Linked DNA regions of Homo sapiens. The protein of the gene in region 4 interacts with the protein of the main gene of each other region in a pairwise test. Each region holds a gene or a part of one and is shown on either strand. Other genes may lie near its edges. The genes, in order: RNASEH1, C1QTNF2, MICOS10-NBL1 and NCS1.

What was found.
Region 1: the proteins of NCS1 (region 4) and RNASEH1 interact in binary tests that used the Homo sapiens proteins (3 or more experiments, as listed by UniProt).
Region 2: the proteins of NCS1 (region 4) and C1QTNF2 interact in binary tests that used the Homo sapiens proteins (3 or more experiments, as listed by UniProt).
Region 3: the proteins of NCS1 (region 4) and MICOS10-NBL1 interact in binary tests that used the Homo sapiens proteins (3 or more experiments, as listed by UniProt).

Annotation. Positions count from the first base shown.
Region 1 is NC_000002.12:3,555,319-3,563,286, reverse strand, and holds the start of RNASEH1 (ribonuclease H1 isoform 1 precursor), read left to right. Parts: upstream 1-4,953; 5' UTR 4,954-5,026; coding exon 5,027-5,154; exon of another isoform or gene 5,155-5,392; intron 5,393-5,443; exon of another isoform or gene 5,444-5,612; intron 5,613-6,382; coding exon 6,383-6,498; intron 6,499-7,968. UniProt on the Homo sapiens protein: Endonuclease that specifically degrades the RNA of RNA-DNA hybrids.
Region 2 is NC_000005.10:160,367,623-160,374,472, forward strand, and holds the start of C1QTNF2 (complement C1q tumor necrosis factor-related protein 2 isoform 1 precursor), read right to left. Parts: upstream 3,005-6,850; 5' UTR 2,890-3,004; intron 1-2,889. UniProt on the Homo sapiens protein: Involved in the regulation of lipid metabolism in adipose tissue and liver.
Region 3 is NC_000001.11:19,592,915-19,599,978, reverse strand, and holds the start of MICOS10-NBL1 (neuroblastoma suppressor of tumorigenicity 1 isoform a precursor), read right to left. Parts: upstream 3,001-7,064; 5' UTR 2,934-3,000; coding exon of another isoform or gene 2,870-2,933; intron 1-2,869. Other genes in the region: MICOS10 (MICOS complex subunit MIC10), read right to left, coding at 2,870-2,933. UniProt on the Homo sapiens protein: Possible candidate as a tumor suppressor gene of neuroblastoma. May play an important role in preventing cells from entering the final stage (G1/S) of the transformation process.
Region 4 is NC_000009.12:130,231,382-130,237,806, reverse strand, and holds the end of NCS1 (neuronal calcium sensor 1), read right to left. Parts: intron 4,818-6,425; 3' UTR 504-4,817; downstream 1-503. UniProt on the Homo sapiens protein: Neuronal calcium sensor, regulator of G protein-coupled receptor phosphorylation in a calcium dependent manner. Directly regulates GRK1 (RHOK), but not GRK2 to GRK5. Can substitute for calmodulin. Stimulates PI4KB kinase activity.

The DNA.
Region 1 (7,968 bases), on a different chromosome or scaffold from region 4:
TGCCCAGGTGGTGCTTTTGCTGCTGATCCAAGGACCACACTTTGAAAACCATGACTTAGGTTTAGGAGGACGGGCTCTGGAGGCAGGTTTGAGTCCTGGCTGTACCACTTCCTGTCTACATGTCTGAGGACAAGTGACTTAATCTTTACATTTCAGCTTTCTCAGCTATAGACAATATAATATTGAGAGTGCAAATTAGTTCAACCATTGCGGAAAGCAGCATAGTGATTCTGCAAAGAACTTAAAACAGAACTACCATGCAACCCAGCAATCCCATGACTGGGTATATACCCAGAGGAATCTAAATCGTTCTACCATAAAGACACATGCAGGTGTATGTTCACCACAACACTATTCATGATAGCAAAGATGTGGAATCAACATAAATGCCCATCCACAGTAGACTTGACAAAGCAAATGTGGTACATTTACATCGTGGAATACCATGAAGCCATAAAAAAGGAACGAGATCATGTCCTTTGCAGCACTATGGATAGAGGTGGAGGCAAGCTAAGGCAGAAACAGAAAACCAAACACCGCGTGTTCTCACTTATAAGTGGGAGCTCCACAGCGAGAACACAGGGATATTAGGAGGGGAACGGTGGGCAACGGGGCCTACCTGAGGGTGGAGGATGGGAGGAGGGAGAAGATCCGAAAAAATACCCATCGGGTACTAGGCTTATTCCTCAGTGATGAAATTATCTGTACACCCATCCCCCATGACATGAGTTTACTCATGAAACAAACCTGCACATGGACCCTCAAACCTAAAATAAAAGTTAACAAAAAATTTTCCTGACCAACCTCTTCAGGAAGAGGGGCAATCCTCGTGTCACAAGCAATGCCAATAAAGAACAGGAACGCCACCTTTTTCAACTCCTGAGAGATGAATCCAACGTCTGACCCTGCATTGCATGCACTCTCGCCCACGTCGGCTCTCATCCCCACACTCCTCGTTCCTGTCACCGGCCTATGCTGTAAACACCCTAGCAGTCACAATCAGTCACTTATCTGTCTTATGGGTCTATTATTTCATTCTCTGTCCTGCAACCGAAGCTCTGCGTTGTCTTACCCATGTTTAGAACAGCTCCGTTCAATGATGAGAGTCACACAAGCCATCTAAACTTTTCTGGTGGTCACATTAGAAAAGTAAAACAGCAAGAAATAGTTTTATTATTATTATTAAGATGGAGTCTCACTCTGTCACCCAGGCTGGAGTGCAGTGGGACAATCTCGGCTCACTGTAACCTACACCTCCCGGGTTCAAACGATTCTCCTGCCTCAGCCTCCCAAGTAGTTGGGATTACAGGCACTCACCACCACACCCGGCTGATTTTTGTATTTTTAGTAGAAATGGGGTTTCACCATGTTGGCCAGGCTCATCTCGAACTCCAGACCTCAGGTGATCCACCCGCCTCAGCCTCCCAAAGTGCTGGGGTTACAGGCATGAGCCACTGTGCCTAGCCACTAATTTTAAATGTATTTCTTTAACCCAATATATTCAAAATATTATCAGTTCAACCTGTAATCAATATACAAAATTAACAATGTGTTTTAATTTTTTTGGCAGTAATGAATGCCATGTTGGCTTTTATTATTTTTTTTTTCTAATTTTAAGTTCCAGGATACAAGTGCAGAACATGTAGGTGCTATATAGATAAACATGTGTCATGGTGGTTTGCTGCACCCATCAACCTGTTGTCTAGGTTTTAAGCCCTGCGTGCATTAGCTATTTGTCCTACTGCTCTGCCTCCCCTCGACCCCCACCCCTCTTAAAATTCTTTTTATTTTTCACACTGAGTCTTCAAAGTCCGGTGTGTATCATACAGCACATCTCAATAGCCACATGCAGGCAGGGCGCGGTGGCTCACGCCTCTAATCCCAACACTTTGGGAGGTCGAGGTGGGCATTGGACGATGCAGGTCTGGACAAGTGCCTGGTATATTGTGGGCACAATTCTTGAATGGACCCTGAGAAATAAGCAGAAATGGTTTTGTTATTCCTAATTTACAGAGTATAATAGATAATGGCAATAGTGACTTTTATTTGAGTTTATGTCATGTGTCAGGAATAGGCTATGCATACATTTATTATTTCATCTAAAATCTCATCCTCAAAACAAAAGCCTTTTGCAGTGGGAATTATCACTCCCATTTTTTTTTTTCAGTAGAGAAAATTAAGTTTCAAAGGAGCTAAGTGACTGAGACCACATATACACTCATCTTCTGATTTCTGATCCAGTGTTTGCTCAGGATAAGAAATGTCCTATATTTCTATGAGCCAGAGATTAAGATAAAAAAAGATTTTCAGGAGTAACCAGTCAATGAAAAGTCAAAATAAATAGTTTTGGCAGCCGGGCGTGGTGGCTCATGCCTGTAATTCCAACACTTTGGGAGGCCGAGGTGGGCAAATCACTTGAGGTCAGGAGTTCAAGACCAGCCTCACCAACATGGTGAAAACTTGTCTCTAAAAATACAAAAATCAGCTGGGCGTGGTGGCGCATGCCTGTAATCCCAGCTACTCGGGAGGCTGAGGCAGGAGAATCGCTTGAACCCAGGAGGCAGAGGTTGCAGTGAGCCAAGATCATGCCACTGCACTCTAGCCTGGGCGTTGGAGTAGGACCCGGAAAAAAAAGAAAAGAAAATAAAGAAAGAAGAAAAGGAAAGAAAAGAAAGAAACAAGAAAAGAAAGAAAGAAAGGAGAAAGAAAAGAGAACAAAGGAAGAAAAGACGAAAGAAGGAAAGAAGAAGGAAGGAAGGAAGGAAGGAAGGAAGGAAGGAAGGAAGGAAGGAAGAAGGAAGAGAGAGGGTTTTGGCACTGTGGAAAGTCATGTGGATGATCCTGCAAGCGTCCTCAGGTAATTCCAACCTAGGACTTCTCAGGGAAGATGAGTCCTTGTGATACAGGACCAGCCAGTGGGCACAGAAAAGCAAGCCCTTGGTAGGTCAACCCTCAGATATGCTGACGAGGTGGGGGCAGCTGTCAGGTCATCCTGAGAGCCTTCCCGGGCATCTCTGGGCTTCCTCAGATATCTACACAAGGGTAGGATGATCAGTCATAAATGGACTTTAGGGACAGCTGTGTGTGTCTTTTTATTTTAAAATAAGAATCCGTCTTGAAGTGCAATAGGTAGGAATGAGGAATGAAAGCTATGGCCAATTTAAATTAAAATTAGGAAAGCTGAAATGTTTAAAATTGATGTTCTTTGGCCAGGCACAGTGGCTAATGCCTGTAATCCTAGCACTTTGGGAGGCTGAGGCAGGCGGATCACTTGAGGTCAGGAGTTCGCAACCAGCCGGGCCAACATGGTGAAACTCTGTTTCTACTAAAAATACATAAAAATTAGCCAGGCGTGATGGCGGGCGCCTGTAATCCCAGCTACTTGGGAGGCTGAGGCAGGAGAAATGCTTGAACCCGGGAGGTGGAGGTTGCAGTGAGCCCCAATCGTGCATCGTGCCACTGCACTCCAGCCTGGGCGACACAGCAAGACTCTGTTTAAAAAAAAAAAAAAAAAAAAAAAAAGATGTTCTTCGATTTCACAGAGGAACACAACTTACCACGCCAATGTACGCGTCGCTTTTGCCTGGGCCGTTCCTTCTTCCTAGAATGTCCTGCTTCTTTCTCTTTGTCTAACTCATGTGAATGAACTTTTTAAAAAATTAGTATCCTTCAAAACTGTATTTGCTCAGGCGTTCTGATGTGAGGCCCTCCTGACTCTCCAGGTGCGGGTGCTTCTCTGCTCTGTGTCTCTCACCTCCAACAGCTTGTTCTGCCTGCGCACTATTTGCTGATGTGTTATCTCCGGGGATTCTCGAATTTCTCACCTTCATCCCCAAGGCCTGACAAAATACATGGCAGGTGTGCAAAAGGCTTGTTAGAAGACCTTAAGAAAATTAAAGAAAAGTGGTTTAAAAATAATTCGAATAACAATGTTTGCCAATGGAGACTTTTTTTTTTTTTTTGAGACGGAATCACGCTCTGTCGCCCAGATGCAACCTCCACCTCTCGAGTTCGAGCGCCTCTCCTGCTTCAGCCTCCTGAGTAGCTGGGATTACAGGCGCAGGCGACCACGCCCGGCTAATTTTTGTATTTTTAGTAGAGACAGGGTTTCATCATATTGGCCAGGATGGTCTCGATCTCCTGACCTGGTGATCCACCCGCCTTGGCCTCCCAAAGTGCTGAGATTACAGGCGTAAGCCACCACGCCCCTCCAACCCATGAACACTTTTAAAATTACTTGATTTGCTTACAGAGCAAAAGGTCAAATGGGGAGAATTCTAAAAGTTACCTTCTCAACTCAGTTTTCTCCCGGGTCGTGGTGCTTGAGGCACTGGATATCCCCTGGTTAAACACCCACGTGCAGTGGAGCAGGGAGGGGACGCGCCCCTTCGGGGGTGGGCGCCCAAGGCAAGGGGAGGAATGCGGCTTCCACGGCCTCCCCTCTCGCCCTCCTTTGTGCTTATTCTAATTCATGAATTCTAACATCTTTCTGCCCACTAAAAAATGTGCATTCATTCATCTGGCCACAGCCCTTACTGTAGATCCGCATCCCTGGAGCTCTCGAGGAGCCGCGGTTACCGCACGTGGGTGCCGGGCGCCAGGGGGTTCAAGGGCTTCCCGCGGTGACCCGAGCACGCCGGGGCGTGGCCCCCGAACTGCGGCCTGGGGGCGGGGAGAGAAGGGGCCCAACATGGTCCATCTCGACCTTCCTCTGCCGGGCCCAGGGCTTCAGCCCCGCTCCCATAGGCCCCGCCCCATCCCAGACCTCGCCCGCCTTCGGGATCTCAGCCCTGGCTCCGCTTCTTCAAGTACCGACAGGAAGTTGACGAGTTCGGGCTCGTCAGGGGCCGAGCTCCGGGCTCCGCCCTACGACACCGCCCCTCCCTAGGCCCCGGCCCTCATCAGGACTCCGCCCAGACGTGCGTCATCTTCCCGCGCCGGTGACGGAAGTGCGGTGTTGAGCGCCGGCGGCTCGCGCCCACGCTGGGCCGGGAGTCGAAATGCTTCCCGGTGCCGGGAGTGAGCGATGAGCTGGCTTCTGTTCCTGGCCCACAGAGTCGCCTTGGCCGCCTTGCCCTGCCGCCGCGGCTCTCGCGGGTTCGGGATGTTCTATGCCGTGAGGAGGGGCCGCAAGACCGGGGTCTTTCTGACCTGGTGAGTGGCCCGCCCGCCGAGGCGCCTCCCTGCCGGCATCGGGGTCGAGGGAGGCCGGAGCCCGGCTAACCCCGGCGGCGGGAGCCTGGCGGTCCGAGTCTGTGCCGCGCGCTGTGGCTGTGGGTGGTCGGGGGACCGCCTCGTTTTCCTGCTCGGCCGGCGGGGTTCCAGGAGGCTCATGGCCTGGGACTGGAACGCACCGAAGACTTGTTTGAAATATCAGAAACGTCGCGTAAAGGTTAGGGGTGGCCTAATAAACCCTGTGTTTAATCCTCCATCTTTGTTGCAGTTAAAGTGCAACAAAAAGTGACACGTAATCAGAACGAACCCCCGTTACCAGAAGACTTTCCGTACCAGCTAAATTGGGATTGGAACTCAGTACCTAATCTTCCCTTTTAAAAAAGGCAAATTCTAATAAGCCAGTATTTGCAGTTGGATCCTTGTAACAACCCTTGGAGGTGAGAGGGATTATTCTCACTTTCAGGTATAGTTCTTGGGGTCAGGAAGTTCCCAGGGCATGTAACTGACAGAGAAAGGACTTGAGCCCAGCTGTTCTGACTGTACCACCAGAACTCTTCCCACTACAAGATACCAAAGTTCGTTACCTGTGTTTCCCCATGCACGGCAGCTACAGTATTGAGGAAGAAGCATCTCAGAAGTTGACCTTTTTGTTGTAAAGAAATGGTTAATATTTTTTTCAAAGACCGCAGTATTTTGTTATGCTTTGAGTTTGACGAAAGCCTTATGGTGCTGGTGTGCTGGCTGGCTGGCATACAGTAGAACACAGGTGTAGAGTCTGACGTGCAGGATAAAACTATAAGGTGCGACTCTGCCCTTTTCACGCAAAAATTGGTCCTCTATATCCAGTTTGCATCCTCAGTTTCAGCTAACCATAGATCAAAAATATTTGGAAAAAATTAAAATAGAATACAGTTTTAAAATACGCATAAAAAGACAATACAACTATATAGATTGTATTAGGTATTATAAACTAGAGATGATTTAAAGCATGCAAGAAGATGTGTGTGGGTTATTTGCAAATACACCATTTTATGCAAAGGACTTAAGCATCCTCTGATGTTGGTATCTGTGATGGGGTGGAGGACTTCCTGGAATCAGTCTCCCTCAGATACCAAGGGACAACTGTATTTCCAACCTTAAGAATCTCAATAAAAAAGGGGATAAGTTAGAGAAGGAAGAAGGAAATAACATTGCACATCTTTTCCAGGAATGAGTGCAGAGCACAGGTGGACCGGTTTCCTGCTGCCAGATTTAAGAAGTTTGCCACAGAGGATGAGGCCTGGGCCTTTGTCAGGAAATCTGCAAGCCCGGAAGTTTCAGAAGGTAGTCACCTCTCATATCAGTGTGACATTTTAACCTATTCAAAGGCTTTCATATGCCAGATGGCATTTGATCTATATAGCTACCCTCTAGGCATGTAGGGAACCTCGTGTGATTGTTTTCATTTTACAAATTAGGGAACAGACTGAAAGCAGTTACAAATAGTGGTTCATATTACTTACAGTATTAGGGATAAGCCAGGACTCAGCTCTCCTGTTCCATTCAGCCTTTTATGCCATAATTCCTTGTCTTTTTTTAAAAAAATACTTGTCCAGCCTGGCCAACATGATGAAACTCCATCTCTACTAAAATACAAAAATTAGCTGGGCATGGTGGCGCACACCTGTAATCCCAGCTACTCGGGAGGCTGAGGTGGGAGAATTGCTTGAGCCCGAGAAGTGGAGGCTACAGTGAGCCGAGATTGCACCACTGCACTCCAGCCTGGGTGACAGGGCAAGACTCGTCAAAAAAAAAAAAAAAAAACTTACATAGTTATTGGACTGGATGGGCTACAGTTTACAGGAATGAGTGTGGTTCTTTCCATGGCATGCCCCTTTGTGGTGTTGCCTTTTTATTGAGAACAGAGTCACACAATCTGAATTTCTTCTTTTTTTTTTTCCTTGAGACAGAGTCTCTGTTGCGCAGGCTGGAGTGCAGTGGCACAATCTTGGCTCACTGCAGTCTCTGCCTCCTGCGTTCAAGCGATTCTCCTGCTTCAGCTTCCGGAGTAGCTGGGATTACAGGTGCGTGCCACCACGCCCGGCTAATTTTTGTATTTTTTTTAGTAGAGATGGGATTTCACCATATTGGCCAGGCTGGTCTTAAACACCTGACCTCAAATGATTCACCTGCTTTGGCCTCCCAAAGTGTTAGGATTCCAGGCATGAGCCACCACGCCTGTCCAATTTCTTCCAATTTTATGTGTTATAGAAAGTACGGTTATTCAAAGTTTAAAGCCCAATATAAGATTAATTCCCAATATAATTGGAAGTTTAAAGCCCATTATGCAGACTCAGATGAGCAGGGTGACGACTTTAGAGCGCAAGATTTTAAAAATATTTCTGGATCTACACTGAGGAGGTGATCTTACGTGAATGTTACTTACAAACTTTTTACTATAGCAAATTAAGACTGAGCAGAGCATAGTTTTAATTACCTTATCTTGAACAGCCTCTCTAGAGGCCACTGAGATGCTTGAACCTGAACAACTGCTCCTTCGAATCATCGTAACAATCCTGGACAAAGCACAATTCAGAGCGAGGCAGGTTGTGTCCAGAATGGATCCCTGAAGAGTTAGTTTGCAAAGCAGGGTCGACCCTCACTCAGTGCATCTGCTTCACCCTCTCTCTCTTCAATAGCTTTTAAAGGAGATTCTGTTTGAGAATGAGGACACGTGAAAAAGGCTCATCGATGTGACAGTTCTTACTGCTTACTGCATGACAGCCAATAAGCTGAGAGACAAGGTGTTGGGGC
Region 2 (6,850 bases), on a different chromosome or scaffold from region 4:
GCAGATACCTTGATGATGGGCTTCCAGCCTCTAGGGATCGTGAGAAATAAATGTCTATTGTTGCAGCTCCCCAGTCTGTGGTGTTGTCACGGTGCCCCACGCTGACTAGGACAGAGAGCCTGTGTTCTACAGTGTCCACAGTCCTCACCACTCCCAAATGTCATGCATCCCATTCCTATATACATTGTGCACAGTCTCTGTCAGTATCTGGGTTTGCAACCCCTAATCTAGAGGAAAAGAGTAATGATTCTCCATGTATGTTGTGTGTTCTTATTTCAAAGTTTTGATGTTCATATCTCCTTTAAATCTCCCCACACTTCTAAGAGGCTGATACTGTCATCTCCACTTGGCAGAAGAGAAAACAGAGCTCAGAAAAGGGAAAAATTACTTTTCCTAGGTCAATGTTTGGGTGGAACTCAGGCCTGCTGGCTCAGGGCCCAGAGCTCATGTTCCTCCACCATGGCCCCTCAGCTAACAGGGGAGTTACTAACAGGGCAGTGATGTGTATGCGCATGTGTATGTGTGTTATAGGAGTAAGCCACTTAACAGAAGTGAACAAATCCAGGGGAAGGTTATTTGCTTGAAAAAATATTTGGCACATAATTCCTTTCAAAAGAAAAGCTAGAATGGGCTGGGCGCGGTGGCTCATGCCTGTAATCCCAGCGCTTTGGGAGGCCGAGGCGGGCGGATCACAAGATCAGGAGTTTGAGACCAGCCCGGCCAATATGGTGAAACCCCGTCTCTACTAAAAATACAAAAATTAGCTGGGTGAGGTGGTGTGCGCCTGTAGTCCCAGCTACTGGGGAGGCTGAGGCAGAAGAATTGCTTGAACCCAGGAGGCGGAGATTGCAGTGAGCCGAGATTGTGCCACTGTACTCCAGCCTGGGCAACAGAGCGAGACTCCTTCTCAAAAAAAAAGAAAAAAGAAAAAAAAGAGAAGCTAAAATGGAATATAACTAACAGAAGTTTGATTTATGCAAGAGTTCATCTCACAGAGGTAAATTAAGGTTGGCAGGCCTTTGACCAGGAAGAAGGAGTGGGTGAAGCTGTGGGTGTGGAGAGAGACTCTGTTACCCCACAGTGAACATTTAGGAGTAGGAAGCATCAGTGATTGAGACAGCAGGAGAGACTGTCTGATCAGCAGGGTCAGCATAAGAGAAGGAATAGCGAGACAGGGGGGAGGAATAGGGAGATTTGCAGAGGAAAAAAGTGACACCTTGGAGAACTTGCTGAACATTCAATGGAGACAGAGTGGCTTCAAACGTGACTCCAGCCTTGTGAAAAATAATCTCAGTTCATCCATACAATGACACACTATGCCCATTAGAAGAACAAAGTAAGCCTGTATATGCAGATATGAAAACATGGCGAAGACACACTGTTAAGTGAAAAAAGCAAGTTGTACCATGGAATGTAAAGTATGCTTCTCTTTGAGTTTAAAAAAAAAAAAAACAGCACAAATACAGAGTATATATATGTACAGAAGGGTTGGGGAAATACTTTCCGAAAAGACACAATCTTGTTAAGGGGTTACCTTTCAGAATTGGGAGGGGGTGTGTGGGCTTTTACTTTTCTCTTTCTACCTTTTTGAACTGTTCGAATTTCTTGTGATGAGCGTCGTTACTTTTATAACATTTAAAACAAAAGGTAAACCTAAGGTTTAAGGATTGGAAGACTGGTAAGTGTGGTATCCCTGCTAGGAGATGGGGAGAAGTCAGACATTTGGGAGGAAACAAATTCTGCAGTGAATCTGATGTGTTACAATGAAGGGCTGTAGTGATGCTTGGAAATGTGTGGAGAGTTTGAGGATCGGGCAGTTGAAAGCAGGAGTAATTGATATAATTACTCCAGATGACAGAATAAATTAGAGAATGGTGCAGAGGGAGGGCAAAAATAAGGATGTGAGAGGACAGATTTTTAACAGTGCTAACTGAGCACCAGCCTTGGATTGACCTATGTAAGACATTGTCTTTCTATTACTGCTACTTCAGCATGGTGGAAACACAGGGTCTCTGAGAGATGGCCAGTCTAAGGAAGGGACCTCTGCAGGCTTCCAAGCAGGGCAATTTTGTGGTCAAGGAGCAGAGGAGGATCACAATGAGGTAATGCAAGGGACTCATGGTGTCAGAGGAGAGACCTGGGCTGGGAGACTATTAGGGCCCACTGCAATTATTTAGCTGAAAAGCGAGGTCCTAGAATGGGGCAGCAGCAGTGGGGATGGAGAAATAAGGACAAAGCATATTAAGACAAGTAGTTTAGGTGGGGAAGGAGAGTGAAGAGAGTCATGAGGCATTGAGTACAAATCTCTGCCTGCCGTTCAATACCTTTTGAGCTCAGTTTGCCAGTCTGTATCATATATTTAAATAAATGTGAAGGTTAAGTGAAATAATGCATTCAGTAAATGTTAACTGTGATTGTTAGCTCGGGTATTGGACTCAGATTTACCAGACTTCAAGTCCCTTTTTTATCAATTACTAGCTGTGCAACCCTGTCCAAGTCATTAATGTCTCTGAGCCCAGTTCCTCTTTTGTAGACGGGGATAATCTGTTGTCATGAAAATGAAAGAGCACAAGTAAAGTGCTAGCAGGACTTGGCACAAAGTAGGCGCTCAATAAATGGCAGAGCTACGGGTGTTACTATTGTAACGGGTAAACCACTGGGCACAGAGCCTGGCACACAGTAAGGACTCAAAACATGTTAATTTGTATTATAATACGAAGGTAGAAGTCGAGAGGCAGGAATGCAGGAGCTGCCCAGCCCGCAATAAAGGCGCGCTGGCAGCTCTCCCACCTTCCGCATCCCGCCCCGCCCGCAGCAGTGCGAGTCCTCCTCCTCCTCCTCCCCGCGCGCACTTGCCGCCCCCGCCCGACCGCGGTGCGGGACACTCACCCTCGCGGCTGCCCGCCACGTCCAGGGGCGTCCGGAGCAAAGAAGCTCTCGGCGGGGCTCCGCGTCCCGGCTTTCCTCAGCGGCAGCAGCCGGGCAGAGCGTCGGCCCCAGGCATAGTTTTCCCATCCCGTCATGGGCGGGAGAGCCTTCCTCCCGGTCACGTGGGCTGGCCCGCAGCGCAGCATTCTCTTTTTAGCAGCTGTTTGGAAAAAACTTGCAGTGCTGATGACAACTCGGGTGTGTCGATGCATCTCTGCGTTTGTAGAGCTTGTTAGCGTATTTGGAGGTTTTGTGCGCCAGAGTGATCAGAGTGATTGTTTCCCACGCGTTTGCAAAGGTGTGCATGTACTTGAGTGTGATGATAAATCATAGGGATGTGTTTAGTTGTGTGTGTGCGTACGTGCGTTTATCCAAATTTTCATCAGGGCTGTTCGGTGTATGTACACATGCATGCACATGTCCAAGATGGCAGCTTGGTGTAAAACTGGAGGGCACATCAGTGGTTGGATGTACACGATAGTGGCTAGACATCTGTATGTGGGGTGCATGTTTAAATGTGTGTGTGACTGTGCAGGGGCTCATTCTGTGTGTTGGTTTGACATCTGTATGTGGGGTGTATGTTTAAATGTGTGTATGACTGTGCAGTGGCTCATTCTATGTGTTGATTTCTATGCATGCCTTGGTGTGGATTTTGTCCGGATGTGAGTGTGCACATACACACTAGTGTGGGTGAGTTCCCCTGTGTACCAGCTCTCATTTCTCTTCTCCCCAGAAGGTGAGGATTCACTGGTCTCACTCACTCTGGCCCAGCCTCAAGTCATTGAGAGACTTATGGAGGGTCTCAGCTCCCAGGATAGGCAAAGCAATCCTATTTGGGAATCAAGCAGGCACTGGAGGAAAGGAAATCCTCCAAGGCCTGGCTTTTGCTTCTCCCTGTTCCTTCCACTGCTCTCTTCCACTAGCTACCCATATTTCACTCTGCACAGCCAGAGCATCTGGTTAACAGCTGGTAAGTGACACAAAATTTACAGTCAGAATTTTAATACAGATATGCATTTGAATTCTAATGTTGTATCCACCACCTTAATCAAGTCAGATAATCTCACAGATGGTGTTTTATTTTCTAAAAAAAATGGGAGAATAATATTACCTGCACTGCCTTTACCCCAAAGTTGGGACACTAACTCATAAAGATGTTTGGTAAGCCATTGAACTATGTAGGGAATTATTACTAATATCACATAAATACTATTTGAGAAAGAAAGTTTGTAGGCTTAACAAACATTCATTCAACAAATATTTAATAAGCATCCATTGTGTGTCAGTCCCCAAGCAAGGTGCTGGGGACATAGAGGGAAACAAATAGGCTTGATGCCTACCCTCATGAAACTTAGAGTCCTCCAGCTGGGGATGACACAAGTGGTTACAAGTGAAATGAGTGTTATAGAAAAGAAAAGCTTAAAGTATAAACTGGGCAGTCAGGGGAAGGCCTGGGAAACTGATGTTTCAGGTGAACCCTGAGAGATGACTGAGACTTGTCTGAATGTAGGGGAAGTGTGAGCTCAAAAAATGAAGGAATGATAACATGTGGAGTGGAGTTTAGGGTGTTGATACACAGATGGCTGGAAAGGAAACTTCCATCCACCGCCTCTTGGGTCAGATGTGTCAGCAATTGGAAAGGTGAGGAAACTGCTTAGAATGCCTGGAGGCCATTCAGAATCTAAAGGGCTCAGGAAAGCCCCTCTCCTAGAGTAGAGTGGTAATATCTGTGTGTTATCCATGTGGCTCCATCATGACAGAGGTTGAAATCACTGGCATGCTCTCATTGGTTAAAAAAAAAAGGTTAATGAAAAGTTAAGAAAGGCAGTGCTGCTATACCTGGTAGTGTGAAACATTTAATAAACACTACTGATTGAATGAATGGGGGCACATGTTTTTCCAACTTTTGAAGGATACCTGGAACCTAGGTTTCCTGAAGCCTAGCAGAGTTCCTGGGTCCCTGTCCTATGGTTCCTTGCAGTGGTGATGGCTTCATGTAGCATGCAATCCAAAATACTTGTCCGGTGGCAGTTCCACGAGCTGCAGGAACTGTGTCAAGCTAGAATGGGGCTTAGAACTTCCTCTCCCTAGCCTCTCTCTGTCTTTACTCTCTGCTTGAATTCAGTCTACGAACATTTGTTTGTTTGTTTGTTTAAGATGGAGTCTTGCTCTGTTGCCTAGGCTGGAGTGCAGTGGCACAATCTCAGCTCACTGCAATCTCCACCTCCCGGGTTCAAACGATTCTCCCGTCTCAGCCTGCCAAGTAGCTGGGACCACAGGCGCGCAACACCACACTAGGCTAATTTTTGTACTTTTAGTAGAGATGGGGCTTCACTATTTTGCTCAGGCTGGTTTTGAAATCCTGGCCTCATGTCATCCAACTGCCTCGGCCTCCCAAAGTGCTGGGATTACAGGCGTGAGCCATTGCACCCGGCCACAGTCTATAAACATTTATTACCTATTATGAGTATGGGGACAAAGAGATGAACTTCTGAATGAGAACACAAATTACACCAGGAGGCAAAATACAATTAAGTGCCATAGGAAAGGTGCAAAGTGTGAACATGAAAGAGGAGGATTTTCCCCTTCGATTTCATTCAATTCATTTCACATCCATTCACATCTAGAGAACATGCTAGTATCCACCTAGAGAAGACGAATGATATTATGACATTGATGGCCACAGAGCGGGGCAGCCATGAGGCAGATGTGGCAGATTGGCTTGTTCCACAATTGTCCAAACTTTTCTTGGTGTGCTTTCCTATACAACAGAGACTAGAAAGCTAAAAATCCATTTCCTAGACTCCTTGCTGTTGGGGCTCCCATTATAATTTAGGTTTAGCCAGTCCTGTGCACCTGGGAAAGACCTGAATTCAAAATTGTGTTCAGAAAAACAAAAAACAAAAACAGTTATGTGAAGAGGAGGTAGCAGCCTGGGAGGAATCCACTTTGCTGGTGGTGACCTGGAAGATGCAGTGTGACTCTAGAGTTCTGCCAGTTCCTGATCCCCAGATTACACCTAAGATGTTGTGTTCTTGTAGTCAGACTAGGCCAGTCGCCGGCCTCCTGATTGTGGCAGAAGGCCACATCCCTTGGGGTGGTGGGGTTAGTACGACGGCAGGTTTTGGGACTCATTCCTGCAAGCCCAAGCCAGAACTTGTTCTGCAATGGTTCTGAGTCTATTTGATTCTTTTTATTAAATTCATGTCTGCTTAAAATCCTAACTGACATGTCATGTTATGAACTATAGGTGCTGTGAAAGTCAGGGAAAGGAGATGAGTGTGGATCAGAACAAGCAGAGAAGAAATCTAGAGGACTGCCTTCTTTCCTCTTTCTATCCACCTCCTATGCTCAACCCCATTTCAATCCTCCCATCAACCTTCAGATTAATCATTGATTAAATATCAGCAACTACAATGCACCAGGCACTCTGCTTGATGTTGAGCTCACAGTGATGAATGAATAAGGAAGGTCTCTCCTTATGAGACAGATGTGAAACCAGCAACCAAATAAACATATAATTCAAAATTGTGGTGAAAATAAGAGGGAAACATGGGAAAGAATAACGGTATGAAGTCTGTGAGATAACCTACTTTGATTGAAAAGTCTAGATGATCTCTTCAGTAGGTGATATTTAAGCTGAGTCCCAAAGGATAAAAAAGGGCTAGTCATACAAAGGTAGCCAAGGTGAGGAGTGGTGCCAGGCAGAAGGAGCAGGGTATGTACAAGCTACCTTAGTCCTTCTAAATATCTTTCTAATGCTTCCCTGTGTAACAGAGGATAAAGCCTAAACTCAGCCTTTTTTTGTTGAGGGGACTGTCCTATGCATTGTAGGATTAGCAGGATCTCTGGCCTCTACCCACTAGATACTACCTACTAGTAGCAGCCCTCCTCGACCCCAGCTGGGACAACAAAAATGTCT
Region 3 (7,064 bases), on a different chromosome or scaffold from region 4:
TTGTTGCTTGAAACCATCCCATGATTACCCACCAGCCTATGCCTAGTGAGCCCTGGAAGCAATAGATTTTTAAGGCAGAGGTGCTGAATACGCAGAAAGCATGTGAAAAAGTCAACAGGCAACTCAAACACCTCCAAGATAAAATGGAATCTCTCTAAGACATTTCACAGTTCTGACTCCACCTAAACCAGCCTCTCTGCACTGAAATTAGGATGCCTGGGTTCTAATCCCAGCTCCTCCACTTCTGGATATTTAACCTCTCTGCGCTTCGATTTACTCCTCATAAAAATCCAACTTGACCTTTGCTTAAGTTCTTCTTCCATCCTACCTGACTATTCAATCCCAAGCCATTCTACAAAGGTCAGTTGAAGGCCCTTCCACACTCTTATTGAATGACCTCAGCCCATCCCTTCAGTCACTTAATATACAACCCTACAGCAAAAGAGTCTGAATCACTCATTTTAACTTATACCTGAGATCGTACATCACCTTGCCTCATTTAATTACTCCACATGTATATGCTGCACCCCTATCAACGTTCTACGCATGAGAGACAGAGTGACACTATTCACTGCCTCACGTGGTCTTCAGTAGCACAATAATATTAATATCAACAACTATTGGCTGGGTGCAGTGGCTCAAGCTTGTAATGCCAGCACTTTGGGAGGCTGAGGATGATGGATCACTTAAGCCCAGAAGTTTGAGACCGGCCTGAGGAATATGGCAAAACACCGTCTCTACCAAAAAATACAAAAATAGTTGAGCATGGTGGCACACACCTATAGTCCCAGCTACTCAGGAGGCTGAGGTGGGAGGATCACTTGAGCCCAAGGAGACAGAAGTTGCAGTGAGCCGAGATCCCACCACTACACTCCAGCCTGGGTGACAGAGCGAGACCCTATTTCAAAAAATAAAAAACAACTACTATGAGTGTGGCGCATTGGCTCATGCCTGTAATCCTGGCATTTTGGGAGGCTGAGGCAGGAGGATCGCTTGAGCCCAGGAGTTAAAAGACCAACCTGGGCAACATAGGGAGACCCTGCCTGTATAAAAAAAATAAGTTAATTAAAAATAAATATAAATAAAATACATTAAAAAATTTTAAAAGCCAGTTATTATGACTACCATTACTGTATACATAAAGCACCAGGCACTGTGCTAAGTAGCTTATGTATTTTTCTGTCCTTTACTTTTTTTAATACTTTCAGGTAAATCTCTTTTGATCACCATTTCGTAGTTGAGAAAGAGACTTTACCCAAAGCTACAAAATTAGTAAGGATGGGCGAGAAGAGTGAGAGTGGATGATTCGAACTCAGCTCTGTCTACCTCCAAAGCCCCTTCTTCTTCTTCTCCTTTTTTTTTTTTTTAAGGGAAGGGTCTCACTTTGTTTCCCAGGCTGGTCTCCAACTCCTGATCTCAGGCGATCCTCCCGCCTCGGCCTCCCAAAGTGCTGGGATTACAGGCCTGAGCCACTTCGCCCAGCTCAAAGCCCTTTCTTAACTATATGACATTGCCTAGTAACTACTTTGGTCATTTCATAGCTAGGTGTTAAGTCTTCTCTCTGAACTGCAAGCTGTTAACAGTAACAAAACAAAAGTGACTGTTTAGTCGCTTCCAAAATAACCCATTCCTAAGTGATCCATATTCAAGCCTTTAAACAAACTAACTCATTTAATCCTCCCAACGACTCCATGAGATAGTAATAATTATTACTGCCGATTTCCAAATAGGAATCAGGCACAGAAAAGTTAAATAACTTGCCCCAAATCACTTGACTGTAAGTGCTGAATTCAGAGGTGAAATGGTAACTTATAAACTGTTTCATTTATTGACTCACTCTCAACAATTTTTATTAAGCACTCTTTTAGGGGCTGGGGATGGGGCAGTGACTAAACCAGAAAACATCCCTGCTCTCATGGAGCTTACAATCTTATTCCTCAATGTTTTCATTCAAAGACACAATCCTAAATCCTCTTAAATACCCTAAGATTACCACACAAAAATATCACATTTGGGTAACAAAAATTAGCATCGAAGAAGGAACATGGGACTTGACCCCAGAAAAGCTGGGTAAAATCCCTAATTTTGCCATTTGTTAGCTGTGACCGTGGGCAAATTCCTTCACCTGACTCTCCATTTCACGGCCTGTAAAAAGATTATTTCGCACAATGAAGACAATATACGCTCAATAAACGAGTTTCCTTTCTCCTCCCCACCATACAGTGACTTCATAATTTGTGCCGTCACTGAGCACGTGTTAAAGGACTACGCAGAAAAACTTAACGTGAACAACTTCTTACTTTCCAGCGCAATTCTCATTCCAGATCATCACCCCTCTAAGTTCAGGCCCCAGACTACTCTGATTCAAATAAATCAGGTGGCAAGTCGGGAATGACAGCAACTCGCATCAGGGCCTGGCGGTGTCTATGAAATGCTCCAGGTGACCTTCTCCAGAAGGCACTTTGGTTTCCGCCGGGGAGCAGCGTGGCCTCCTGAGCCGGTTCCCCGCCGCGTGCCGGGGAATGCACCACCCGGGAGGAGAACCCCGCGGCTCCGGCACGAGGGTGTGCCCCGACACTGTCTTCCACTCAAGAGCTCTGCGACTCTCCTGCCACCTGCCAACCCCGACCACCTCCTCCGGGCTGCAACTCCACCCCGCACCCGGGCTGCTGCTCCGGCTCCTCGGGTCTGTGCCCGCCGCCCGAGTGACCTCCCGCCGGGGCCCGGGCGGCTCGCCCTGGCCGGAGGGGCCGGAAAAGGCCGAGAGGCCTGACCTCCCGTGGGGCTTCCCTTCCTTCCTCCTGGGCAGCGCAGCCTGGAGCCAGCAGCTCTGCACCGGCCGGGCCTGCTGGGGCGAAAAGCCCCTTACCTATCTTCACGACCGCATCCGCCAGACACCGGTCCCACTTCCTGCCGAGCTCCGACTCAGACATGTTCCCCACCCGCGCCTCCAGCTTTCCTCTCGGCCGGCCCCCGCGCTCCGACCCCTGAAAGTCTCGCGAGAGCTGGAAACAAGTCCCAGGTCAGGAAGGCAGGCGCAGACGCTCCAGATATCGCGAGATGATCCGCTGCTTCCATCCCTTCCGGTTTTTTCAGTTGGTCGTCAAGGTGACGAGTTGTCTGGAGGCTCGAGGTGACCCTGACCTTGGGGCTGCGCCTATGGGTTTGCGAGGCTGACAGTTTCCTAGGCGTCACCCCAAGCCGTGACCAGGCCTTTCCTCCTCACCAAAGTGCGACATTGGCCCTGGAAATCCCCCGGGCAAGAGAGGGTACAGACTTGATTTATTCATTCATTAACGTACTCACCTTCACTTTCCCTACTCACTCTCTCATTCGTTCACTGGTTTCTTGCATTGGAATTCCCGCCTGAACCACTAACACCGAAACTGCTCTGGGAAAGATTACCTACCGCCAAATCAAATGGACTCTTTTCTGACCTCTGTACCGCATTCCACACAATTTTCCCTCCCTCTGATCCTCCCTGGCTCCTCTATTCGTTTCACTCCCGGTAACGCCACTCTTTCCTCTTCTCCCCATCTGCTGTTGTCTGTTGGTTTCCTCCAGGGCTGCCTTTTCTCTGCCAGCTGTTTAAGGACTGTTGGTTCGCAAGCTTCCATCAATTCTCTTTTCACTGTACAGACTCTCCCTGAGTAATTGCAAACACTGCCAAATTATATCTCCAGGTAAAACGTCTACCTCAGGCCTCCTATCCATGTATATATTTACACACCCACCCACACACACACACACATACACATACATACACAGGGTGCCCTCTGTATCTGTGGGTTTTGCATCCATGGATTTAACCAACCATGGACCAGAAACATTTTTGAATCAAATAAAAAATAATGCAAAATTTAAAATACAGTACAACTATTTACCTAGGATTTACATTGTATTAGGTATTATAAGTAACCTAGAGATGATTTAAAGTATATGGGAGCCAGCGCAGTGGCATGCGACCGTAGTCCCAGCTACTTGGGAGGCTGAGATGGGAGGATTGCTTGAGACTAGGAGTTCGACTTCATCTCTTTAAAAAAAAATAAGTAATTTTAAAAAAGGATATGTAAGCATGTGTGTAGGTTGTATGCAAATACCACGCCATTTTATATATGGGACTTGAGCATCCTGCATTTTGGTAACTGCGAGATCCTGAAACCAAATGCCCACAGCTATCAAGAGAGATTGTATATCCAGCCTACTGGCTAGTGTCATTGATTTTAGTCTTCCATCCTACCAACAAATAGAAATCTGACCACGTTATGCCTCTGATTAGAAGCTGTCAATGAAGGCCGAGAGCAGTGGCTCACACCTGTAATCCCAACACTCTGGGAGGCTGAGGCGGGAGGATTGTTTGAGGCCAGTAGTTCAAGACCAGCCTAGGCAGCATAGTGAGACTCCTGTCTCTACAAAAAATTTAAAAAATTAGCCAGGCTAATGTGATGTGTGCCTTTAGTCCCAGCTACTTAGGAGGCTGAGGTAGGAGGATCACTTGAGCCTGGGAAGTGGAGGCTACACTGAGCCATGTTCATGCCACTGCACTCCAGCCTGGGCATCAGAGTGATACCCTATCACAAAAGAAAAAAAAAAAAAGCTGTCAATGACTCCCATTCATACACTGGATCTATCCAAGCTTCAACACTGCACTGATTCTAGGAAGCCTAGTCAGATAGAGCTTAGAGCTGCCTTCCCCTTCTCATTGTCCCACTACCCTGCCTACCCGCATTGATTTCTCTATCTAGTACTGAAACATCTGGTTGTAGATATTATCTGCTAGTAGAACTAGAAGTTGCCCCTTCGTCTTCATACTTCCAGTCAGAGCACAATGCCTTGGATAGTAGGGTCTTCTATGAAATATTTGTTGAACTGAATTGAATTTATTCACCTATTTATTTGTTTATTTATTTATTGAGAGAGAGTCGCGCTCTGTTGCCCAGGCTGGAGTGCAGTGGCACGATCTCGGCTCACTGCAACCTCTGCCTACTGGGTTTGAGCAATTCTTCTGCCTCAGCCTCCAAAATAGCTGGGATTACAGGCGCCCACCACCACGCCTGGCTAACTTTTTGTATTTTTTTAGTAGAGATGGGGTTTCGCCATATTGGCCAGGCTGGTCTTGACTCCTGGCCTCAAGTGATCCACCCACCTTGGCCTCCCAAAGTGCTGGGATTACAGGCATCGTTCAACTATTTATTTGCAACTATGACAGCAAAACTCTGTTGTATCAGATCTTGCTACGACAGCCTCTTCCTTCAAGATAACTTCTATGACCACCCTTCCCTTCTCCTAGTTCTCTATTTTTTTAAATTATTCTTTCTTTTTTTTTTTTTTTTTGAGACAGAGTCTTGCTCTGTCACCCAGGCTGGAGTGCAGTGGCATGATCTTGGCTCACTGCAACCTCTGCCTCCCAGGTTCAAGAGATTCTCCTGTCTCAGCCACCTGAGTAGTTGGGATTACAAGCACGTGCCACCACCCCCAGCTAATTTTTGTATTTTTAGTAGAGATGGGGTTTCACCATGTTGGCCAAGCTGGTCTTGAACTCCTGACCTCAGGTGAACCACCCACCTCAGCCTCCCAAAGTGCTGGGATTACAGGCTTGAGCCATCATGCCCAGCCCTATTTTTCCTATTCTTTAAATTTTTCTTTGCTTTTCCTTTTTTATAGAGGTGAGGTTTTGCTATGCTGCCCAGGCTGGTCTCGAACTCCTGGGCTCAAGCCATCCTCCCACTTTGTCCTCCCAAAGTACTAGGATTATAGGCCTGAACCACCATGCCCAGCCCCTTCTAATTCTCATCACAGCTACTTATCAGATGATTTGTGTTTTTAATAATTGTTTGTAATTTTAACAATTATTTGTGTGTCTTTTGGATTTTGACTGTGAGCAAATTGAGAATGGAGGCCGTGCCATTTCTGTATCCCTAATGCTTAGCAGAGAGCTTGGTATATATCGGATTCTCAATAAATGCTTGTCGAATGGACATAAAAATTAATAAATAAGGCCGGGCACGGTGGCTCACGCCTGTAACCCAGCACTTTGGGAGGCCGAGGCGGGTGGCTCACAAGGTCAGGAGATCGAGACCATCCTGGCTAACACGGTGAAATCTTGTCTCTACTAAAAATACAAAAAATTAGCTGGGCATGGTGGCGGGCGCCTGTAGTCCCAGCTACTCGGGAGGCTGAGGAAGGAGAATGGCGTGAACCAGGGAGGCAGAGCTGGCAGTGAGCCAAGATGGCGCCACTGCACTCTGGCCTGGGCGACAGGGCAAGGATCTGTCTCAAAAAAAAAAAAAAAAAAGAATAAATATATGAACAAATGATTTAATTAATCAGAAAGAGAAAAAGTCCCTGTTCTGGGGAAACTGTGTAGTGTAACATTTCTGTTGAAAAAGAAAGAAAATAAACTTCACTAAAATACCTATCACATGGCTGGGTGCAGTGGCTCATTCCTGTAATCCACTTTGGGAGGCCGAGGCAAGAGGATCACTTGAGCCCAGGAGGTCAAGGCTGTAGTGACCGTGATGGTGCCACTGCACTCCAGCCTGGGTGACAGAGCGAGACCCTGTCTCTAAATAAATAATACCTATGGTGTGTCATAAATAGCTGCAGGCACTTCGCATAATTTCATTTATTCTCACAGCAGGTCAAGATTAGCATCTTCGTTTTCAGATTTGGAAACTGAGTCTCCGAGAAGTTAAGCAACACAGAAGATGCACAAAGCTCCACGTTGTGTAGATTTAAAATTGACAAAGGCATTTTTATTGGATTCAAGAGAGTTGTAAACTCTTGCAAAAGGTAGAGAGCAAATTACAAAAGCAATCAGAGGCAGATGTGATAGCATGAATCTGGAGCCAGGCTCTCTGGGTGCAGATCCCAGCTTTCCCATTTCCTAGCCTTCTTTCTATTGTTCTGTTTTCCCACCATTCCTTCCCCAATACAATGTTTTGTTCACTGCTATATCCCTAGCCCTATAAGATTATCTCACACATAGTGTCTGCTTGATAAATATTTGTTGGTTGAATGAATAAGATGAATGAAAACTCTGGAGTTTTTGTACTTCTTGAAGA
Region 4 (6,425 bases):
ACACTCCTGCAGATTTTTCTGGTTTAAAAGTATACTCAAGGTTCTCACTTTGCACATTCTTTCTCTCTCTTTTTTTTTTTTTTTTTTTTGAGATGGAGTCTCGCTCTTGTCACCCAGGCTGGAGTGCCATGGTGTGGTCTCAGCTCACTCCAATCGCCGCCTCCCGGGTTCAAGTGATTCTCCTGCCTCAGGCTCCCATGTAGGTGGGATTACAGGCGCCTGCCACCACACCCAGCTAATTTTTGTATTTTAGTAGAGACGGGGTTTCACCATGTTGGCCAGGCTGGTCTCGAACTCCAGACCTCAGGTGATCCGCCCAACTCGGCCTCCCAAAGTGCTGGGATTATAGGCATGAGCCACTGCACCCGGCCTACACATTCTTTCTCTTCAGGAAACTGGGAAGACAACACCCAAAGCCAGAGAAAGGGTGTCACAAAGGGAAGAAACCTAAAACGAAACGGAGAAGAATGTAAACAGACAAAGCAACAGGCCCACACAGGGAGGCGAGGACAAGTCCAGGAAGCGTGTTTAATTGGCGTGACATGGACGACATACAGCAGGAGCTTGGGGAGGCTGGGGCATGCTACACGGCCCCTGTCCACCCCTGGGCCTCGCCCTGACCCTGGCCCCAGAGACACACACCGGCAGGTTCAGACAGGACGGCACCCCAAAAAGAGACTCAAAGGGGGCTGGGGAGGCAAGCAGGAAAGGAAATAACCACAACCAGAAGACATTGCCTTTTGTTTGTTTGTTTTTGCAAGCATTATACCAATTTCTCCCCCAAGTGGCAGGCTCCGGGTGGGAGGCAGCAGCAGTCCAAACCGCTACTCTTGGGCACCGTCCTCCACTTCTGTGAGGGGCTTTGATGATGACACTCACATTTGGGTCTCACCAGGCCCCTGCGAGGCAGGCCCAGCAGAGACTCTTGCTCCCATCCAAGGGATGGGGAAATTGAGACCCAATGAGCAGAACTGACTTGCGCAAAGTCCTGAAGGAAGCCAGCCACCGAGTCAGGCTGGGAGTGAGGTGGGCCTCCCTGGGGCCGGGAGCCACTGCAGGAACAGGGACAACAGGGAATGTGCAGACTGGGGAGGGCGACTCGGGGCTACCCCATCCTGGAGAAGGGGCAGAGCCTGAGCCTGGATGCTAAGATGCCAAGACAGAAGATGGGACCAGCTGTTTATTCAACAAAAGCCTTTTATTCATTCAAAAATTAACCATTGGGTTTATTCCGCAGATATTAAAAAAAAAAAAAAAAGAGGGGGGCAAGGCTTCCCATCACAGTGCCCTTAAGTTAATTCACTTGCTATCCAGGGATGGCCTAGCAGAGGGGTGTCTGGGAAACGCTGCCAGAAATGTGGTGGCCCAGGGCCTCTGAGGACTCACAGCCCCCTCCTCGCCTCCCCGCTCCAGCCTCCCTCCGGACCACCCGTCCGGTGGGGTTGCAGCCCCCAGGTGCGTTGGCGGCTTACCACCACCAGGGGGCGCGCCGCGCTTCCTTAGCTCCCTTAAAATTAAATGCTGAAACCGCGCTGGGAACAGGGTGACTTTCCGCCTGGCGGGTGGGCAATGGAGGCTTTTTCCAGAGACAGCCTGCCTCTCCAGGAAGGGATCCCAGGCATCCCGACCTCCCCACCAACCCCCTCCGAAAAAACACAAAGTTCCTGAAACCCCAGGTGCACTTGTCTAGGAAACGGGCTGTCAAACTGAAAAGCATTTCAGGGGAAGAGATGTCAGTACAGAGGGTGACACGTACGCTTGCCTTGATGTTATTTTAAACGTGGCCTGCTTAGATCATGGAAAATCGGAACATTCTCCTAAGTCACCATCAACACAAAGTGAGGAGCAGACGCTACGAGGAAGAGGACAGGCCGTGGCCGACTGGCCGCCTGGGGCTGGTGCCTGCCCTGGCCCCAGTGCGAGGCTCTGCAGAGGGACTATGGGCGTGCCCTCTGCATCAGAGCATCTGAAGCGAGCCGCATTGGGTGGCAAACGCCGCTGTGGAGAGGCGCACGGGCTGCTCAGGAGGCACCTGGCTCAGGATTCTGCGGCATCACTGCAGCCAGAGGCCTGGGGAGAGGAGGGGGCAGAGATCGGTCCCTGCCAGGCAAACTCTAGTGAAAATGGCCAGTGTCCAGCACCCCGCCAGGGCCGGGAAGGGCGGCCCTTCCGGCAGCTCTGGGCTGGCTCGGGCTGTGGGCCCACCGGCATGCTGGGCTGCGGTCCGCAAGCATACCATCTGCTAAGGCCAGAAGCCACACCTGTGGCTTCAAACCAAAAGGCCAAAGGGCAGGACGATGGAGGAAGGCCGGACACACCGAAGGGGTCCACATGCTTAAGCCCAGACACCCTCAGCCACAGGTCAGGTTGTACAACAGTGTCAGTCCCATTGGACCAGAGAGGCAAATCGAGCCTCAGGCAGAGGCCAAAGGAAAGTAATTTGACCTGGGAAAGACCTCCCTCATCCTCTCAGCCCAAAGCCACCATGTTCGTTCCCTGCCCCAGACCCCAGGTCAGAGCCCAGCTGAGAAACTTCAGCCGTTGGTGCTGAGTCCCAGGTCGCCCGGGCCAGCAGCTGAGCAGGGAGCCGACTGGCAGGGGCCTCAAAGAATCCACCCTTCAAAGTGGCCTGTGAAGGTGGAACCACTGACCCCATCCCTGCAGGATGTTGGTGGGGGAGGGGGGGTTACCGTGGGGCCAGCGTGCAGTCCTAGGGGGCTGCCAATGAACGCCTCAGGGGGGACGCTGGGGTTGGCTGAATGCTCCAGCCAAGGGGAACAGCCACGCAGCCCCACACGGCAACGTCACTACGGCAGAGGCCTTCCTCGGGCTGGAGGCCTGCTTGCTGAGGGTGGGAACCGAGGACCAAAGTGTCCCCTCTAAAACATGGGCTGATGGGCTGTTGACTCTGCAAAGCAGCAGCAAGAATTCTAGACCCAGGCCTGGCCCTGACAGTCTGGGAAGCGGCTTCTCACCTCAAGCCTTCCCTGTGCAAGGACTCCTTCTGGGTCCCAAAGAGCGCTCAAGGGTCTGGGGGGAACCAGGAAATGCTGCGGGAAGGGACAAGGTGTGCCACATGACACATTCATCTGCTGGAACTGACCCCACACACCAGCAGCCACGCAATAGGGGCTGTGCTGTGACTCAGACAGTCCCTCGGGCTGCTGGGGTCAAGCAAACTTAACCACAGCATCACCAGCCACAGGAAACTGAACCCCAGGCCTAGAGTGACATGATGTCGGCATGGAAAAGGGCCTTCAAGACCAACCAGCCCGGGCCTCCTCGCTCTGCAGATGGGGCAACTGAGACCCAGAGAGGGCAGGAGGCTGCCCACAATCAAAGAGCAAGGGCCGGACCTTGGGCTCCTACCTCTGGTCCAGGGTGGCCTCGCATTCCTGGTGATGGTCCTGGGGCCGCACCTGCCTCAGTGGCAGGCACCGCTGGAAGCCTCCGTGAAGACATGTGGGCCGCAGCCCCAGGTGTAGGGACTATATTGATGGGATTGCCTGGAACTCTTCTCTCCTTCCCTCCCTCCCAGCCTTTGAGCCAAGAGAAGGCCAGGGAAGGACACCATGCAGTTTACTGGAAAAAGCAGATAGGAAGGAGGGAAGGCAGAGCGGGAGAGAGTCATGAACTATCTTGAAATCCCCTCCCCAGCCCAAGGAGGCGGGGGTCCCCTTGATTTCTGCTAACTTACTTCAAAGACCACCTCTCCTGACTCTGCCTGGGTACCCAATGCCCCTTCTTCCAGCTCCCAGCCTTAGGCGCCCTGTTTTCCATGCTGCGGCAAACACCAAAGCAAGAGTTGAGAAACCTAAAGATGTCCCCTGTTCATCCTCGGAAAAAATGTTACGGACCCAGGGGAGAACAAGGATGCGGGGACAGAGGCAGCAGGGAAAAGGGGTTTGGCAGGAGGCATTCGGGCTGGAGGGAACAGTGCATTAGCCATTTAGGAATTTCCACCTCTCCCCTCTCCAAAAATCAAGCACAGTATCTGAAAAAAAAAAAATTTTTTTTGGCTTCTTGGCCGCTGCAGGCCACCATCCTCCCAAGTCGGCGTGGGCAGGTGGGTCAGGGCGTGCACATGTAAACGGTGGGCCCGCAGCCCTGGGAGCTGAGGACACACCAGGCAGCAGCAACAGTTAACAACCAATAAATTAAAGATATCAATTATATATGTATATAAAAAAAAACCTCACTTTCCCCACAAAAAGCACAATACTGTTATCACAAAAAAAATCATCATCCTCATAATTAATCATCCTAGCCACGCAGGTGGTTTTGCTGCCAAAAGATGGGACGACAAATAACGTTGACCAGGCAGAACCCCTAGACACCCTCGGCCCACCCACAGCCTCTCCGGCTGCCGAAGGACGAGGGACGAGGGCAAGGCAGAGTTCTCTGAGGTCCCCAGGCCTTCACCCCATCTGTCAGTCTGTGTCTTCTAGGACAGAAGGTAGTTGTTTTTTTTTCTTTTAAAACGTCTGTTCAAAATAAAAAACAAAAGCACACGCGCAAGAGAGCGGGAGGAACGGAGGCTGCCTGCGAGGCAGCCAAGTCCTTGGTTTATGCAGAGGGCTGTAGCCTTTTCCATTTCGTGTTGTCGTTTTCCGGACAAGCAGAGGTTGCTGGCAATTGGAGCCGGTGGCTTCAGGCGGGGGATGGGTGCAGGACAGGGGAGAGGAGAGCCGGGGCCTCCCGGGTCAAGGGCAGCCGGCTGTGTGTGGATGCGGAAGAAGGCTGGGTGGACGCACGGGGTTGGTGTCAGGGCTGAGGTGGCCTCATGGCACAGAAGGAGGTGAGTGGTTCCCAGGCATCTGGAAGACACAAGGAGGCAAGATGGGTTAAGATCCAGCCACAGCGGATAGGGGTTAAGGTCTGGCCACGGAGGATAGGCACAGAGAGCTGGCAGGAAGGTCGATAGATGGCAAGCTGGCATTCTATGTCAGAAGTCCTAAAAATGTGCATAACCTCTGAGGCACCCTTTGGGTTTTTTGGTTTTTTTTTGTTTGCTTTTTTTTGAGTTGGAGTCTTGCTCTGTCACCTGGGCTGCAGTGCAGTGGCATAATCTCGGCTCACTGCAACCTCCACCTCTTGGGTTCAAGCGATTCTCCTGCCTCAGCCTCCCAAGTAGCTGGGATTACAGGCGCCCGCCACCATGCCTGGCTAATTTCTTTTTGCATTTTTTAGTAGAGACAGGGTTTCACCATCTTGGCCAGGCTGGTCTCGAACTCCTGACCTCATGATAGACCCGCCTCGGCCTCCCAAAGTGCTGGGATTACAGGCGTGAGCCACCGTGCCCAGCCTATATTTATCCTTAATAAATAAATGTTTACCACTGCACCATCTGTAATAGCAGAAAACAGAAAACAAAAATGGAAGCAGAGAAAACAATCTAAGTGTCCAGTATCAGAGGAGTGGTGGGATACATTAGGACACACCCACAGGATAAAACAGTTTACAAACCATTAAAAACAACACATAGAACAGTCGATAAACACATGAAAAGATGCCCAACATCCCTAGTCATTAGGGAAACACACATCAAAGCCACAGGGAGGGCCAGGAGTGGTGGGTCAAACCTGTAAATCTAGCACTTTGGGAGGCCAAGGCAGGAGGATCGCTTGAGGCCAGGAGTTCAAGACCAGCTTGGCCAACACAGTGAAACCCGGTCTCTACCAAAAATACAAAAATTAGCCGGACGTGGCTGCGCACACCTATAATTCCAGCTGCTTGGGAGGCTCAGACAGGAGAATGACTTGAACCTGGGAGGCAGAGGTTGCAGTGAGCCGAGATTGCATCACTGCACTCCAGCCTGGGAGACAGAGTGGGACCCTGTCTCAAAAAACAAAAACCACAACAACAACAAAAAACCACAGTGAGGCAACCACTTCACACCCACTAGGATGGCTACCTTTTTTTTTTTTTTCATGGAAAATAACAAGCGTTGGCAAGGATGTGGGAAACTGGAACCTCTGTCCTTTGCTGGTGGGAATGCAAAATGCTGTCACTAGTTTGGAGATCAGTTTGGTGGTTCCTCAAAAAGTTAAACATAGAGTTAACCATATGACCCAGCAACTCCACTCCTAGGTATATACCCAAAGAACCAAAAATCCATACTCAGGCCAGGTGAGGTGGCTCATGTCTGTAATCCCAACCCTTTAGGAAGCCAAGGTACGCGGATCACCTGAGTTCAAGAGTTCGAGACTAGCCTGGCCAACATGGTGAAACCCCATCTCTACTAAAAATACAAAAATTAGCTGGGCGTGGTGGTGTGTGCCTGTAATCCCAGCTACTCAGGAGACTGAGGCAGGAGAATCGCTTGAATCCAGGAGGCAGAGGTTGCAGTGAGCCAAGATCACGTCATTGCACTCCAGCCTGGGCAAAAAGAGTGAGACTCCACCTCAAAAAAATAAATACATAAA